Regions from separate parts of the Homo sapiens genome. Here region 2 is linked to region 1. A link means that fine-mapping ties the variant in region 1 to the expression of a gene that starts in the linked region. Tissue or cell type: whole blood. Region 1 holds a variant in brackets; the other region holds the start of a gene. All regions are shown on one strand. Distances are between the middles of the regions.

Region 1 (2,678 bases):
TTCTTTCATAGTAATGGCCAGTAATAACTGTGAATTTAAAAAACTGGCAAATACAAATACCACATGGCGGGTAAAGGTGCTGGAACTTCTTGGAAACCTCCCAAAATAATCTGGAAGAATAGTCACTGCTATTCACTGGCTTAAGTCTAGCCCTTTGTACCTGGGAATTGAAGGAGAGTGGTGGAGAGAGGGGTGCTGTAGACACAGTCATATGCCAAGAAGAGGTTGACTCCAAAGTTTGTGTGGAACCCATATGGGCTGAGTGTCCTGGAGTCACCAGTCATCACAGGTAGTTGGCAATTATAGTAAAGCTGCAAAAATTTGCACTTGGACATAAGGAATTGGCTGCAGTTCTCTGGCCAGGTCTGTTTCTCAGTGTTGGGGAGTGGCGATCAGCAGCCAGTGTTAAAACCCGCAGTTCAGTGATCACCCTAATACATGAAAGCAGAGAAATGAAAGTAGTGGCTTATGCCTGTAGTCCCAAAACTTTGAGAGGCCGAGGCAGGAGGATCATTTGAAGCCAGGTGTTTGATGCTGCAGTGAACTACGACTGTGCCCCTGCACACTCCAGCCTGGGCAAGAGTGAGACCTTGTCTCAAAAAAAAAAAAAAAAAAAAAAAAAAAAGGATTTGGTTTTTCTTACCCCACACCCCCTCCCCCGCATAACTGGGAGGCTTATTGAAAAATTGCTGTTTTTCATTGACAGTAATAACACAGCCCCATATTTTAATCTGGTTGAGTTTGGGGGCTCATTTGTCTAATAAGGCATTATTAGATATATGAGACATACATGTTTTTGCTGTATTGGGTTTGTATGCACTCAGAGTGCTGCTTTTCATTCTACTACAGATTCTTGCCTCACTCTTTAGGCCATTTCTCTGCATATGTGCATTTTCAGAAGTGGATAGGATAAAATATAAAAGATGAAATTCAAGGTCAGGCGTGGTGGCTCATGCCTGTAATTCCAGCACTTTGGGAGGCCGAGGTGGGCGGATCACGAGGTCAGGAGTTCGAGACCAGCCTGGCCAGCACAGTGAAACCCTGTCTCTACTAAAAATACAAAAAATTAGCCGAGCCTGGTGGCCATGCGCCTGTAGTCCCAGCTACTCGGGAGGCTGAGGCAAGAGAATTGCTTGAACCCTGCAGGCAGAAGTTGCATTGAGCTGAGATCGTGCAATTGCACTCCAGCCTGGGTGACAGAGTGAGACTCTTGTCTCAAAAAACCAAAAAAAAAAAATA[G/C]AAATTCAAACCAGTCAGCTTCATCTGGGCCTCTGATTCATCTTTATTCCCTCCATCATCTAGACTTGATTTTATTTGTACCAAGGAGATGCGTGTCTAATGTTTTTCTTTCTTCTATTTCTAGGAGGGCTGTTGGCCTGCTGCTGTGCTGCTGAACAGTATGCAGTCCTTTCGGGAGCAAAGCAGTTACCACGGAAACCAGCAAAGCTACCCACAGGAGGTACACGGCTCATCCCGGCTAGAAGAGTTCAGCCCTCGTCAGGCCCAGATGTTCCAGAATTTTGGAGGTACAGGTGGCAGTAGTGGCAGCAGTGGCAGTGGCAGTGGTGGTGGACGACGAGGAGCAGCAGCTGCTGCGGCAGCGATGGCTAGCGAGACCTCTGGCCATCAAGGTTACCAGGGTTTCAGGAAAGAGGCTGGAGATTTTTACTACATGGCAGGCAACAAAGACCCCGTGACTACAGGAACCCCACAGCCTCCTCAGCGAAGGCCTTCTGGGCCTGTGCAGAGCTATGGACCCCCCCAGGGGAGCAGCTTTGGCAATCAGTATGGGAGTGAGGGTCATGTGGGCCAGTTTCAAGCACAGCACTCTGGCCTTGGCGGTGTGTCACATTATCAGCAGGATTACACTGGGCCTTTCTCTCCAGGGAGTGCTCAGTACCAACAGCAGGCTTCCAGCCAGCAGCAGCAGCAGCAAGTCCAGCAGTTGAGACAACAGCTTTACCAGTCCCATCAGCCCCTGCCACAGGCCACTGGCCAACCAGCATCCAGCTCATCCCATCTACAGCCAATGCAGCGGCCCTCAACTCTGCCATCCTCTGCTGCTGGTTACCAGTTAAGAGTGGGTCAGTTTGGCCAACACTATCAGTCTTCTGCTTCCTCCTCCTCCTCCTCCTCCTTCCCTTCACCACAGCGTTTTAGCCAGTCTGGACAGAGCTATGATGGCAGTTACAATGTGAATGCTGGATCTCAGTATGAAGGACACAATGTGGGTTCTAATGCACAGGCTTATGGAACACAATCCAATTACAGCTATCAGCCTCAATCTATGAAGAATTTTGAACAGGCAAAGATTCCACAAGGGACCCAACAGGGGCAGCAGCAGCAGCAACCGCAGCAACAACAACACCCTTCTCAGCATGTGATGCAGTATACTAACGCTGCCACCAAGCTGCCCCTGCAAAGCCAAGTGGGGCAGTACAACCAGCCTGAGGTTCCTGTGAGGTCCCCCATGCAGTTTCACCAGAACTTCAGCCCCATTTCTAACCCTTCTCCAGCTGCCTCTGTGGTTCAGTCTCCAAGCTGTAGTTCTACCCCATCTCCTCTCATGCAGACTGGGGAGAATCTCCAGTGTGGGCAAGGCAGTGTGCCTATGGGTTCCAGAAACAGAATTTTACAGTTAATGCCTCAACTCAGTCCAACCCCATCAATGATGCCCA
Region 2 (2,678 bases), 55 kb before region 1:
CTGCCTTCCCCAAGTACATGCTCCTGCCAAGGGGCCCAGGACCACCTGGGGCTCTGCCTGGGACCCTGAGACCCTCCTTGGGTAGCCTGAGAAAAGGCAATGGCTAGGTGGGGTGAAAGGTCAAAAAGTAAAAGCAGGCCCCGGGAAGCTGTGTACCTCAAATATATGGAAATCTGGGTTCCAGACCACACCTGGTTCCTGACAATCCCCACCTGCTGCCGGAAGCACTTTTCCAATCCCAACTTTTAAGTTGGGTTGCTTCAGGAGAGGAAGCCACATACTCCCCTAACATCTAGGACAGATGGGAGCCTAATTTAGAATCGGCAATTTTAGCCAACATTAGGGACATCTAATCCAAACTCTCCTCACCCACAGGAAACTGAGGCCCAAAGTGGGAGGAGAATTTGGCCAGGTCAAAGGTCAGGGGCAGGATCACAAATTCTCAACGCATCCTACTCTTGCTGGCCTTGTCACTTTTGATGGCCGTGGGGGCACCAACATCTACATATTAGTTGCTCTACAATTGCGATTTTCTTTATAAAGAAGTCAAGCCCTTCCTTTGCTTTAGAAACATCAGGTTTGCAAAGGAAGGCTGGGAACAAGCTGAGGCCTTGGCACCGCAAATCCTCCGCCTTATCGGCAAATTAATTCGGGACCCTGGGCGCAGTCAGCCTGGCATTGCAGCTTCTTAATGCCGCAGCAGAAGGCAGCTGGAGCGTCCGTTTTACAGGTGAGGTAGGTGGGCCTCCCTCCTCGCGTTTTCCGCGGTGGAAACTGAGGCTCTGAGAGGACCCAAGTCGTTCCTCCACGGACACCTGGAACCCATGGGCGGGGGCTGCCAGGGACCCAGGCGGGACCAGCTAGGTCTTGGGCTGCCCCCGGCCCAGAGGGCTCTTGGCGGGCAGGAGCCGCCCCCACGCCCGACCCCACTAAACAGGTCACCGAGAGGAGACCGGGTCCTCGCCCGCGGACCTCCCGGGCCGCAAGAGGCGCGATTCTGGAGTTGGAGGCTCCAGGGAACTCCAGAAATCCCAGAGAGATTCCGGGCCACCAACTCCCCCAGAAAGTTGGCTCGCGTCCACCCCCAAGACGGCCCTGAGGCGCAGGCCAAGATGGCACTGGGCGGGTGGCGCGCGGCGCCCAGCGGCCGCAGAGGAGAACCCCGTGCGACCCTGCCGCGAGGTGGGGGTCTTCGCGATCCCTACCCGGCGCGCGCCAGCCTCGACGCCGCCGCACGCGGGTGGGCACGCGCGCGCCCGGCCCCGCCCCCAGCGCCCCGCCCCCGCCGCGCGCCCCGCCCCGCCGCGCGCCCTCCCGCCCGCCCGCGCGCCGCGGCCCGGAGCCTCCCCATTGGCCGCGCGCCGTCACCTGACGCTCTGTTATTTCCTGTGTGTTGGGAGAATGGAGAGAAAAAACCCCGAGCCCAGCCGCTTTCGGCCCCTGCGAGGCGGCCGCGGCCTCCGCCAGGGGAGCCCGCCCTGAGGCGCGCCTGACCGGGGAGCGAGCGCGCGGGCCGGAGCGAGCCTCGAGGGGCCGCGGCCCCGGCCCGCCCCGCCGCCGGCCCGGGCGCCCGAGCTGGAGGCGGCGGAGCCACCCCCACCCCCACCCCGCGCAGCGCCGCCCGCCGTCGCCACCGCTCCCTCCCCGCCCGCCCCCGGCGGAGGCCGAGGGACTGGGCGGGGGGCTCCTGCAGGTAACCGCCTCCCGGGCCTGAGGGGCAGGGAGAGGGTTGGGCCTGAAGGACTGGGGCCGGGCCGGGGTGTCCGGCCTCGGGGGCTGGGAGCAGAGGTCCCGGCCGGACCCAACCTGGGAGTGCGGAGCCTCCTGGACTCCGAGTCAGGGCTTGGGGTGCTGAGGGGAGTGTTGCTGCCCGGCCCGACCCAAGAGTGCGGGCAGGGGCCCGGGCCAGGCCTGGCATCAGAGGGCTAAGGTGTCTTGGGCCGGCCCGGGGTTCCGGCGGGGCTTGGGTGCCGGTGCTGGCCCGAGGGTGCGGAGGGAAGGTCTACCTGCTGGTCGCGCGAGGCCTTGGGTGCAAAGGCGGCGGGTGTGAGCGGGCGGCGTCCGGGAGTCAGCGCCGCCTGCTTCGGGGCCCCTGGCAGCCCCGGGGGCACCGGCCGCGCTCGCCTCTTGGCTACGGGCTGGAGGCGAGGCCAGCGGGGCTGGGCCGGGATGTGGGCGGGAGGGCGCCGCGCTGGGGCGCCCAGGAGAGCAGGGGCCCGTTTACTGCCATGTGAACACCTGAAGCCATGTGGACGCGGCTGCTTCTCGCCTGTTGGGGGCGGAGGGCAGGTACCGGCGGGTTGGGCGCAAGGTCCCGGCGCAGGACACACTTCCTGTGTGGGGCGGCCTCTCCTCCCGCGCCGCGGGGAACAGGGCGGGGTGTGCAAGCCGGGGTCTCTGGGCGAGGGAGCGCTCGTTTGGGGACCTGAGGCTTTCGTCCCTTTTTCGGGGGAAAGTGGTGGTTTGAAGGAGCGTGGCCAATCGGGCCGATCCCTCTCAGGCTACGGCGGGAGGTGCACTGTCCTCTGGACGCCGGAATGGGAGTGGAATTTAGTGAGTTGGGGGGCGGTGCCGAGGAGCGGCCGTCTTCCTCTGCTTGTGGGTGGGATTATTGTCTGTTTTTGTGGTTGCGGATACCAATACGGTCTGCTGGTCTGTATTCAATCCTTTAGTTTGAC

What was found. PIP is the estimated chance that this variant, and not a neighbour inherited with it, causes the effect.
Region 2: TCF20 starts here. The variant in region 1 is fine-mapped to the expression of TCF20 in whole blood (TOPMed, PIP above 0.99).

What each region holds. Positions count from the first base shown.
Region 1 is chr22:42,214,027-42,216,704 of GRCh38, reverse strand. It overlaps TCF20 (transcription factor 20), which reads left to right. Exons shown (of 6, transcript NM_001378418.1): 2 at 1,364-2,678. The coding sequence starts at 1,400. Among named protein-coding and RNA genes, the nearest start is that of TCF20, 55 kb to the left of the region's middle. RefSeq lists an enhancer at 1,223-1,722. The variant G/C (reference allele first, on the strand shown) is at 1,240.
Region 2 is chr22:42,269,354-42,272,031 of GRCh38, reverse strand. It overlaps TCF20 (transcription factor 20), which reads left to right and starts at 1,379. Exons shown (of 6, transcript NM_001378418.1): 1 at 1,379-1,693. It also overlaps the pseudogene OGFRP1. RefSeq lists silencers at 1,286-1,445, 1,586-1,735, 1,796-1,855, 1,996-2,235 and an enhancer at 2,566-2,625.